Homo sapiens: one gene and its partners. The protein of the gene in region 3 purifies or fractionates together with the protein of the main gene of each other region. This does not show direct contact. Each region holds a gene or a part of one and is shown on either strand. Other genes may lie near its edges.

Region 1 (3,732 bases), on a different chromosome or scaffold from region 3:
ATTGACCAGATCCTAGAAAGTCTGAAATATCAATCTAAAATAAAACTTCATTTTATTTAGCTGATGGTGGGACGCCATTGAAAAAATATTTCAGTCTTTGATCTCCTGAGAAAAGGATTTATTTATTGATGTAGCTAAAGGATGTTGTTATCAGATAGTTTTATTTATAAAGTAGTTTTAAGGTGAAAAGCTAAGGACATGCTAAGCAGACAGTTTCTCAAACAGAAAGGATTGCATATAATGCCAATTTGTTAGCTAATAATATATTTCTATTTTTAGGTATCCAGAATGCTACCAGGGGGACTTTTAGTTCTTGGAGTATTTATTATTACTACTTTAGAACTGGCAAATGATTTTCAAAATGCCCTGCGTAGAGTAAGTTTGATATATCGAAAATTCTTAATGAAATCAGTTATATGTTATTTTTACTGATTATGAGTATGTGTAATGATTCTAGGCATATTTACATTTGTTTTCCATAATTCTTTTTGTTGGGGTTACATTGAAAAAGCTTTTGTCACTCAATTGCTTGGATATCTTGAGTGTAAAAAATGTTTATATTTTTAAAAACTACACATTTTATTTATTATTTTTTCCATGGGTAATTTTATTCTTTATTTAGTACACTACCCAAAACAGGGCTATCATCAGCCCATATGGCATTTCATACAAATTTGAAAAAGCTATTCTTTCCTCAAGTTAAAAAGTTAAATTATTTACTTCTCAATAATAACCATGACTAATGACAGTAATTCCATGTAAATTATGCAAACAAATAATTCATTGTAAAATATTGAAAAATTCAAATGATTAATTATAATATTAAGAACTCAAAGTCACTTGGATCTAATAATTTGTTGTAAAAAAGGCATCTTTGTGGAAGTAATTCTTTTTGACAGAAAAACTACATATTTTAAAATAATCTTTATTTTAGAGGTAATTTCTGACTATTAGGAAACAAATTATAATGCTTTAAACAGTTTTTCTTATGCAATAGCAGTATTCTGTCACACCTTCCATTTAGTACCTAGTGATTACTGTAACATGAAATTAATAGGTGCTGAAATTCTTTACCTTCTTCTCAATTCTCCGGAGATCCTGAGAGTAAAACATAAACAATCAGATTATTCCTGGACACAGTATCTATCAGAAATCTCCTGTGTTTTTTGCTTAATTGCTGCACCAGAGAATTGGGTAACATAGTGTAAAAGTAAATATGAAGGTCCACATGCTGTTTTCCCTTAAACCCAAACCTAAGGTAGATTCTGTGTAGCCAGCTCTTTTAGCATTCAGGATCCACATGAACTTTTTGAAGGGTATTTCATACCCCAAAAGAGGGGGAACCTTAAAATCTTGAGACATATAAAACCCAACCCCAACAGTATCCCAGAAAAACATTTTTTAGGTAAAAAATATACAGCTGAGAACTTCAGATGTTACAGATTTTTTCAGTCTTGTAACCTGTCCTGTCAGATGTCCCAGCCTCAAGCCTTTGATATTTGCACCTAAGGGAGTAAGGGAAGAAAATGGAGATATTCTCCTCCCTGCTAAATTGTTTAACCCTCTGCCAACTTTTCCATCTTAAATAAATTTACCTTGTTTACAATTGTTCATTCTCTTTGGCATTTTGAAATTTAACCGAAATCTATGCGTATTTAATATTAATAGCATTCATTGTGCAACCTTTTTTGGCTGGTGCTGAATTGAGGGGGTTGAATGTGGGCCCAGTGCTAGAGAGATACAGCCAGGCCCACTTTCCTTGCTTTTGTATCTTTTGTTCCTAAAAAGTATATAAAACTTTAGAAATGCTTTATCTCTGACATTACTGAGTTTCAATTATCTAATTGTTTCCACTGGCTACACTGACAAACACTACAAGAAACAGCCTTATAAAACTTGTCAGTGTCACCCATTATTGTTAAGGACTTTATTCATCATATTACATTAATATTGTGTTTCCGGAAGAATTTCTTTTTATATTATGAAGAAGGTTGTGCCTCCTCTGATGATTGTTTTTAGCTTACAGACCATGTGAATTAGGTTACAGATTAGATTTCTCTCTGCACATTATTGTTAGAAAGCTTAGACCGAAATGTATTACCACCCCTTACATCAAGTATGCATTTTTATAATTCTTATTTCTGACACAAATTTATCTCACTATTCTACTTTAACTTTCAATTTGTTATTACTATATTTTATATGTTGTTATATATTGCCTTAAGTCTTGTGTGACGTTTAAATAAGAAATGCTAAATGGGTGACATGCTTGATTTCTTTAGTTAAAATCACTTATCATTTCTCATTCTAATTAAAGTCTCTGTTCTATAGTTTATATAAATTCTAGTTGCCCCAAATTAATTTTTTGTGTCCAGTTAATCTCTAATGATAGTGAATTAAATTTTTTTATTTAAACCCAATTTTTCTGTAATTTCCTAAAAGGAATTCAAAAATGTTAGTAATTAGCTCCAGTCTTTAATTTGAAGAAAAGAAAAATTAATGGTGGCACACACCTGTAGTCCCAGTTACTTGGGAAGCTGAGGTGAGAGAATCACTTGAGCCCAGGTGTTCAAGGCCAGCTTGAGCAACATAGTGAGACCCCTTCTCCAATAAATAAAGAATCATGGAATTTTAAAGCTAAATGAGAGTTGGGGACATTATAATTGCCTATTTCAACACTCATCTTTTTTTTTCATTTTACATTCAATTAGTGTGTATTTTTCTCTCTTTCAGCTAATGTTTGCTGTGGAAAAGTCTATAAATAGAAAGAGATTGTGGAATTTCACAGAGGAGGAAGTCTCAGAACGAGTGACACTTCACATTTGTGCTTCTACAAAAAAGTATCTTTTGTTCAGTTTATGGTTTAAAAGTACAAAGTACCAAAATAATATTCTTGCAAGGTTTTTTTGCTATTTATTTAAATCATCATTTAAAAAATAGGCATAGTTTTGTAAGATTTTTCTGTAAATAACATGGAATTAGAGCCACCAATAATAATAATAGCAATAATGGTTGTTAATCATGTCCCAAGGTGATAAAAAGCTTGAGATCTGTAATATGAAAGACTCAGGATTCTGAATTTTTTACCAGCTATCTGCCCTGTACATCCAAGCACAGCAGATTCCCTACAGAGATAAATGCCTAACTGATGGCTTAGGCAAAGTAATGTTTTTATTATGTTAAAGTTTTCACCTCCAGTTTCTATAGATAAGGATGTACAATTCAAAGCACAGGTGCACAGAGCTGGATGGTATAGGACATCGGAGAAATTCTTATGTCTTTGGCTAAGATGAAATGACACTAAAAGCCAGTTACACGGCCTCTTACCAGGGCAAGAGTACCTCCCAAGCAAGGGTCATCCTCACCAAAGGAGTGACACGATCCATGGACTTCCAAAGACAGAATTTTAAAAGTGACCATTCCTGCAGAAGCAGGGCTTTTTTTTTTTTTAACAACAACAAAAAAAATCTTTAGTATTTAACTGCAAAGTTTCATATACAAGCCCTTTAATCCAATAAATAGTCTCAGGTTTGACCTCATATAAAACAGTGGTACTTTTTCTTATGGAGAGTGTATATTTGAGAAGAATCTCACGAGTGCTTTGATTCTATTTATTGCAATTAGCGGGATTCATAAAAGGTAGGAAATGATTTTCAAGCACCGCAAGTACTATAGTGATAGCAGTTTGTATGTATGATTATATATACACATATGTATATATATGCACACATG
Region 2 (3,454 bases), on a different chromosome or scaffold from region 3:
TTGGGGTCCACGTCACTCCTGGCTGGGAAGCAGGCATCGAGCGACACTTGACTCCGGTGACCCCCATGCTCTGGACCTCCACCTCCTGTGTGCGCTTTGTGGGCAGTTGTCGGGAGGGGACCCCCCATGCTGTGGACCTCCGCCTCCTGTGTGCGCTTTGTGGGTGATTGTCGGGAGGGGAGTGGTGGTGACGCCGCTGCTCCTGCCTGGAGGGAGTGCCGTGGGGGCTGGTGAGGGTCCACACTGGGCGGAGTTAGGCTCCAATTCCTCCTCGGCTTCCTGCTGTTAGGCCTCGTGGAGTCGCGTCCCTGCCGGTGCTTGCCCTTGGCCCATGACGGTAACCGCCCAGCACTCTGTCCCCGGGGCCCTGAACTCCGGAAACCCCACTGGGTAGGCTGTGCGTCCCGCCTGGGAGGATGGGGTGTGGGACGCGTGGGTGGGGGACGGTCCCCGCAGTGGGGAGGGGAGGTGCCGCGCCTGGCCTCATGGGCACTGCAGCCACCCTGGGTGCAGCTCCTCTGCTTTGGGACCTTGGGAGGCATTGGTCCCACCCCCACTGCTAGTTCATCTCTTAAAGTGAGGGTGCAGCTCCAGGGCCCGAGGTTTCCCCAACCAGGAAGGATGTCCTGGACCCGGGCTCAGGTCTCCTGACCCAGCACGTGGCTGCCCAGAGCCCTGGCACCAGGGTGCACCTAGAGGAGGGGCCCCACGCTGATGGCTTCTGCAAGGATGGGGACCGGGGACAGCTCTGGGCAGTCAGTGAGGGAGCTGCTGCTCAGGGGTGGACACAGGGAGGGGGTCGGCTGGCCAGGGGGGCAGAGCTTCTGCATCGGGGCAAGGCTGGCCCAGGAGAGGCCGTGGGGAGATGTCGTCAGCCCCGGCAGAGCCCCTGCAATGAATGGAGCTGTGGCTTTGAGCGGGCAGAGGGGACGGGAGATGCGAGGGGCTGTCATCTGCCAGTGTGAGCAGGAAGGGATGGGGACTGATTCCTTCCCCAGATCAGCGCAGAGCTAGGGTTAAAAGAAAGCGGGTGCTGAGGGCTATTTTGGGCAGACACAAAATGTCTGTCATTCATATTTTAAGAGATCCATGAATAAAAGATGAAGTCTCCTGGCCCGAGGCTAAGTGTAGGGCTGGTCTGAGGACTCTGCGTCTCTGCCTTCCCGCCGTCGTCTGGGTCCCATCTCACTGTGTGGACGGCAGATCTGAGAAGGCGCCTGGTGTGGCCTTGCGGGTTCTCTGTTCCTTTTAAGGCCCAGGTCGCTGTCCCATGTGAACATTCGGCCAGGTGGGCGGCTGCCTTGGCCGGCTGACCACAAGGAGTGCAGGCGAGCTCCCGAAGATTCCCACGGTTAACTGAGGGTGAGAAGCTCCGCGGGCAGCCGGAGCCTGCCTGGGGTGGACGTCAGAGATGAGAGTGTCCTGGCCCGCCCGTGCCCTTAGTCAAGGCCCAGCTTGGTGGTTTGGAGATCCCAGGACTAAAGGAAATAGCCAGCAGCACTCAGGAAACCTCCTCAGTTCCTCCACCTGTCCATGGGGGACTGCAGTGCTCGTTGGCACCCCCCGCAGGTGCAGGCAGGGCAGGATCTACGGTGGGTCCACGCCCCTGTCCCCAAGTTCAGTCATCAGGAGGGCAGGTGCAGCTTCCCACTGTAGCACAGCGTGCGCCTTCTTCTAAAGAGAGGACCTGGGGACATGTAGGCTTGGGTGGGTGACTCAGCCTTCCTGGGAAGTGGTGTGTACTGCGGGAGTGGGACTGGCTGTGCCTGCCAGGGTCCTTTGGCCCGAAGTGTGAGGTGTCTGCGCAGCCTGCCCTGGCCAGGCAGGTGGGGTGGAGACGCTGTATATCGTGAGACGTGTTCCTGGCTGACCACTCCCTCCATGTCCCATGGAGCCAGGAGGAGCTGCAGGAGTCACCAGATTCCACACGGAGCAGCTTGGGGCCCGCGGTCACAGGACGGTCAGGCAGTTGCACTGCTTGTCCGGGGCGGTCACAGGACGGTCAGGCAGTTGCACTGCTTGTCCAGGTCTCGCCTCCATGGCCACAGTGCAGCTTGGAACTTGTGGTTCTGCAGTGGTTTGGTCACCTCTGGCCACCACGACGTCTGCTCTAAGAAGGGAGGAGCCAGCCTCTGCCCACGGGAAGGTGTTTAGGGGATGCTGGATGCTGACTCACGTGGCTTCTCTGTGTCCACAGCAGGGAGAGCAACAAGCCCCGGCCCTCAGAGCTCAGCCGGATGAGCGCAGCCCAGAGACAGCAGCTTCTGTGAGTGCACCTGCCCACCTCCTCAGGGGTTCAGCTCCTGAGTGCCCTCACCCTGCCCACCCTCTCCAGGGGTTCAGCTCCTATGTGCCCTCACCCCGCCCACCCTCTCCAGGGGTTCAGCTCCTGAGTGCCCTCACCCCGCCCACCCTCTCCAGGGGTTCAGCTCCTATGTGCCCTCACCCCGCCCACCCTCTCCAGGGGTTCAGCTCCTGAGTGCCCTCACCCCGCCCACCCTCTCCAGGGATTCAGCTCCTGAGTGCCCTCACCCCGCCCACCCTCTCCAGGGGTTCAGCTCCTATGTGCCCTCGCCCCGCCCACCCTCTCCAGGGATTCAGCTCCTGAGTGCCCTCACCCCGCCCACCCTCTCCAGGGGTTCAGCTCCTATGTGCCCTCGCCCCGCCCACCCTCTCCAGGGGTTCAGCTCCTGTGTGCCCCCACCCCGCCCTCTCCAGGGGTCCTGAGTGCCTCCAGCCTGCCCTCCCAGGGGTTCAGCGGCTGAGAGCCCCGCCCGTGCCTCTAGTCCCCTCCACGCTGCTCCGCTGGCTCCTGCCTGTCTGCTCCAGGGGGGCTTTTCAGTGCAGTCAGGTCCTGTGGCCCTGGGTCAAGTCCCGCCTCCCAGGAAGGCTTCCAAGGGGAGTCATGGATCTAAAATGATGGGTGGACGCAGCCCCATCTCCGCCCCTCCCCTCCGCTGGCTGGTTGAAATCTGGATGATACGTTTGGTTCTGTGACTGGGCACTGCGGCCCCCAGTTAGCAGGGCTAGGACACTGATTTGCAGAAATTTGTACTCAGTTGTCCTCTTGGGTACAAAAATCTCCAGACCACGCACGCTCTCTTGCCTCTTTGCAGACTCAGCTCCAGTTTCCACTGAGAGAGCCACATTTTACGCCCTTGTAAGATGGTTTTAGTTAGCTGCTGGGATGATTTTTCCTGTGGTTTGAAATGGCTTTACTCAGGTGTTTATCAGTGGGAGCGTTTTGTGTCAGTTCTACCGAGGCCCATTGTGCCTTTCCAGTTGAGAGTCTGAAGTCTGTTTTGTGAGTTCGATTATGCTTAGAAGCTGCTGTCTGTTTTGTGAGTACAGTTATGTTGGGAAGCTGGTGTCGAATGGTAGCTCCAAAGATTTCTTTATTGTCTCGGCCCTTCTTCAGGGGCACCAATTATGCACTTACTGGATCTCTCTAATC
Region 3 (2,755 bases):
TAAAGCTAGTCCTTTTGTTGATACTCCAATTTTCTGTCTGGCTGTTTGCCATCTAGCTGTTTTTGAATGCCCCTGGCTAAGTGTCCAAAGGCTATTTGGGGCTGAGATTGTTGAGCACCTAAGGCAGTGACAGAGTGTGAGGGGACCTGAGAATGCTTCGATCCTCCCTGTACACTTTTTTTCTTGGTGCCCTATGGCATGTTTTATAATTGATCTGTTCAAAACACTTCTCTTGTTTTATTTTAGTTACGTTTATCTCCATTCCTACTCCCTTCCTCCTCCTCCCCAAGACACAGCTTAATGTGTTTAATGCGTGTCCTTTTAAAAAAATGTGTTATTGGGTCAGGCGCGGTGGCTCACTCCTGTAATCCCAGTACTTTGGGAGGCCAAGGCGGGTGGATCACCTGAGGTCAAGAGTTCGAGACCAGCCTGGCCAACATGGTGAAACCCCATCTCTACTAAAAATACAAAAATTAGTGGGGCGGTAGTGACATGCGCCTGTAATTCCAGCTACTTAGGAGGCTGAGACAGGAGAATCGCTTGAACCTGGGAGGCGGAGGTTGCAGTGAGCAGAGATCGTGCCACTGCACTCCAGCCTGGGCGACAGAGTGAGACTCCGTCTCAAAAAAAAAAAAAAAAAAGCGAAATAACTTAACAATTTTAATATTGGCCTGAATAATATATGTTGTCAAAATTAATTTTACCTATTTCTTTTTGTTTTGTAAAGTATGGATGCTAGAAAATTTTATATTAAGTAGTAATAATGCAGTTAGTACAAGAAGACGTCAAAATGTCTGACTGTTTTGAGATTGACTGAGGTTCAGTTTATTATTAATAGTTGGGATGGAAATAGGCCTACACGAAGTAAGGGATTTATCCAGAGAGCATGGATTCAAGTTCTTCCCTTGCAAATAACAGAAACCAATTCTGCTAACTTGTCCAAAAAAAAAAGAAAAAGAAAAAAAAAGCTCTCGGGGTCGGGGCAGGGGGTGCCCTCTCAGCATCAGGAGCCGGCAGCTGCCTTTCCCTCCGGCACTTTTCCCTTTTCTCCTCTCTGTGTCGTAGGCGTGCCAATCCCCAGGAGAGAGGCGTGATAGGCCCAGCCTTTGACATGTGGGGAAACACAGGCCTGTGATTGGCTACCGCATGACACCCAAGGGACAAGTTGCTATGGCAACGCGTGGGCGCGCTGTGGGCTCGTAGAAGCCAGGTGCGGACGCTGAACAGGCAGGCGAAGACCCGAGATGTCCTTTGCAAGGGTCCCAGAACTCGCCAGTGGCTCAGTCCTCCTCACTCCCAGAACAGTGCTCCTCCACACATGCGATGGCTTTTAATAAATATTTGAGTCACTCCCACTTCCAGTCTCTGCCCCTCCAGGCTCCACGTGCTCCTGGGTTCGTTCGGGTCGTTTTTGTCCCATAACTTTGGGCCAGAGGAGATCTGGATTTGGGCACAGAGGGAGATCAAACTCGGGTGGGATATCCAGTCATGCTGTCTGCTTTGTTTCCAGGGGTCTTCACGGCTTCTCTGCCCAGGGGCCAGAACCGAGGAGGCCAGGAGGGCTGCTGGGGCTAAGGGGTCTAAGGACCTCGTTGCACACGCTACCAGGAGCAGGGGCATGGAGCACAGTGAGGGGGCTCCCGGAGACCCAGCCGGTACTGTGGTACCCCAGGAGCTGCTGGAAGAGATGCTTTGGTTTTTTCGTGTGGAAGATGGTAAGTGGTGAGAGATTGACGGCAGGGGTGGGGGTGTGCCCCTCAACACAGAGCAGAGTTTGGCTGAAGGTCCTGACACTGTCGTCCCCTCCAGGTCAGGCGGTACATTTCCTCCAAGACAGGGAATCAGTCGGGGTGTCTCAGTACCCAGAGGGGTCTGGCTGGACCGCCCCTTCCTTTTCTCAGGGTGTGGTCGCTTATTTATGCAGCCCTCCAATCATCACATTTATTAAGCTCCTACTCTGTACCAGACACTGTTCTCAGCACTGGGGCGACAATAGTGAATAAAACACAAAAATCTCTGCCTTCATGGAATGTACATTCTAGTGGGGATTAAAAATAAACAACTAAAACGCATAGTGCGTTGGTGATGAGTAATAAAAAGAAAAATTAAACAGAGAAAGAGAATAGGAAGTATGCAGCAAGGGCAGTAATGTGGTCAAGGAAGGCCTCACTAAAAAGGTGACATTTTTATCATCAGGAAGGTGACTTGCAGGAAACTAAGGAAATAATTAGGTATGCAAATTATTTGGGGGAGGAACATTCCTGGAGGGAGGACAGCAAATGCAAGAGCTCTGAGGCTGGACCCTGCTTCATTTGGGTACAGCATGGACAAATCTTGAGTAGCCACATTCAGTTTAGTCACTTCATGTATTATCTGTGGGCAGTTGCCATTCCTTCCACCCTTCTCCCTGCCTTCTTTCTTTCCTTTTTTTTTCTTTCTTCTTCTTCTTCTTTTTTTTTTTTTTTTTGCCTTTTTTTTGAGGCAGGGTCACTCTGTTGCCCAGGCTGGAGTGCAGTGGTGCAATCTTGGCTCACTGCAAGCTCTGCCTCCTGGATTCAAGTGATTCTCATGCCTCAGTCTCCTGAGTAGCTGGGATTACAGTGTATGCCACCACACCCAGCTAATTTTTGTATTTTTAGTAGAGACAGCATTTCACCATGTTGGCCAGGCTGGTCTTGAACTCCCGACCTCAGGTGATCCACCTGACTCGGCTTCCCAAAGTGCTGGGATTATAGGCGTGAGCCACTGAGCCCAG

What was found.
Region 1: the proteins of SLC51B (region 3) and ODR4 purify together in Homo sapiens (affinity purification with mass spectrometry; one large-scale study listed by BioGRID and IntAct). This does not show direct contact.
Region 2: the proteins of SLC51B (region 3) and SLX9 purify together in Homo sapiens (affinity purification with mass spectrometry; one large-scale study listed by BioGRID and IntAct). This does not show direct contact.

What each region holds. Positions count from the first base shown.
Region 1 is NC_000001.11:186,385,709-186,389,440, forward strand, and holds part of ODR4 (protein odr-4 homolog), read left to right. Parts: intron 1-279; coding exon 280-375; intron 376-2,733; coding exon 2,734-2,840; intron 2,841-3,732. UniProt on the Homo sapiens protein: May play a role in the trafficking of a subset of G-protein coupled receptors.
Region 2 is NC_000021.9:44,971,000-44,974,453, forward strand, and holds part of SLX9 (ribosome biogenesis protein SLX9 homolog), read left to right. Parts: intron 1-2,197; coding exon 2,198-2,266; intron 2,267-3,454. UniProt on the Homo sapiens protein: May be involved in ribosome biogenesis.
Region 3 is NC_000015.10:65,048,387-65,051,141, forward strand, and holds part of SLC51B (organic solute transporter subunit beta), read left to right. Parts: intron 1-801; exon of another isoform or gene 802-1,510; 5' UTR 1,511-1,618; coding exon 1,619-1,715; exon of another isoform or gene 1,716-2,755.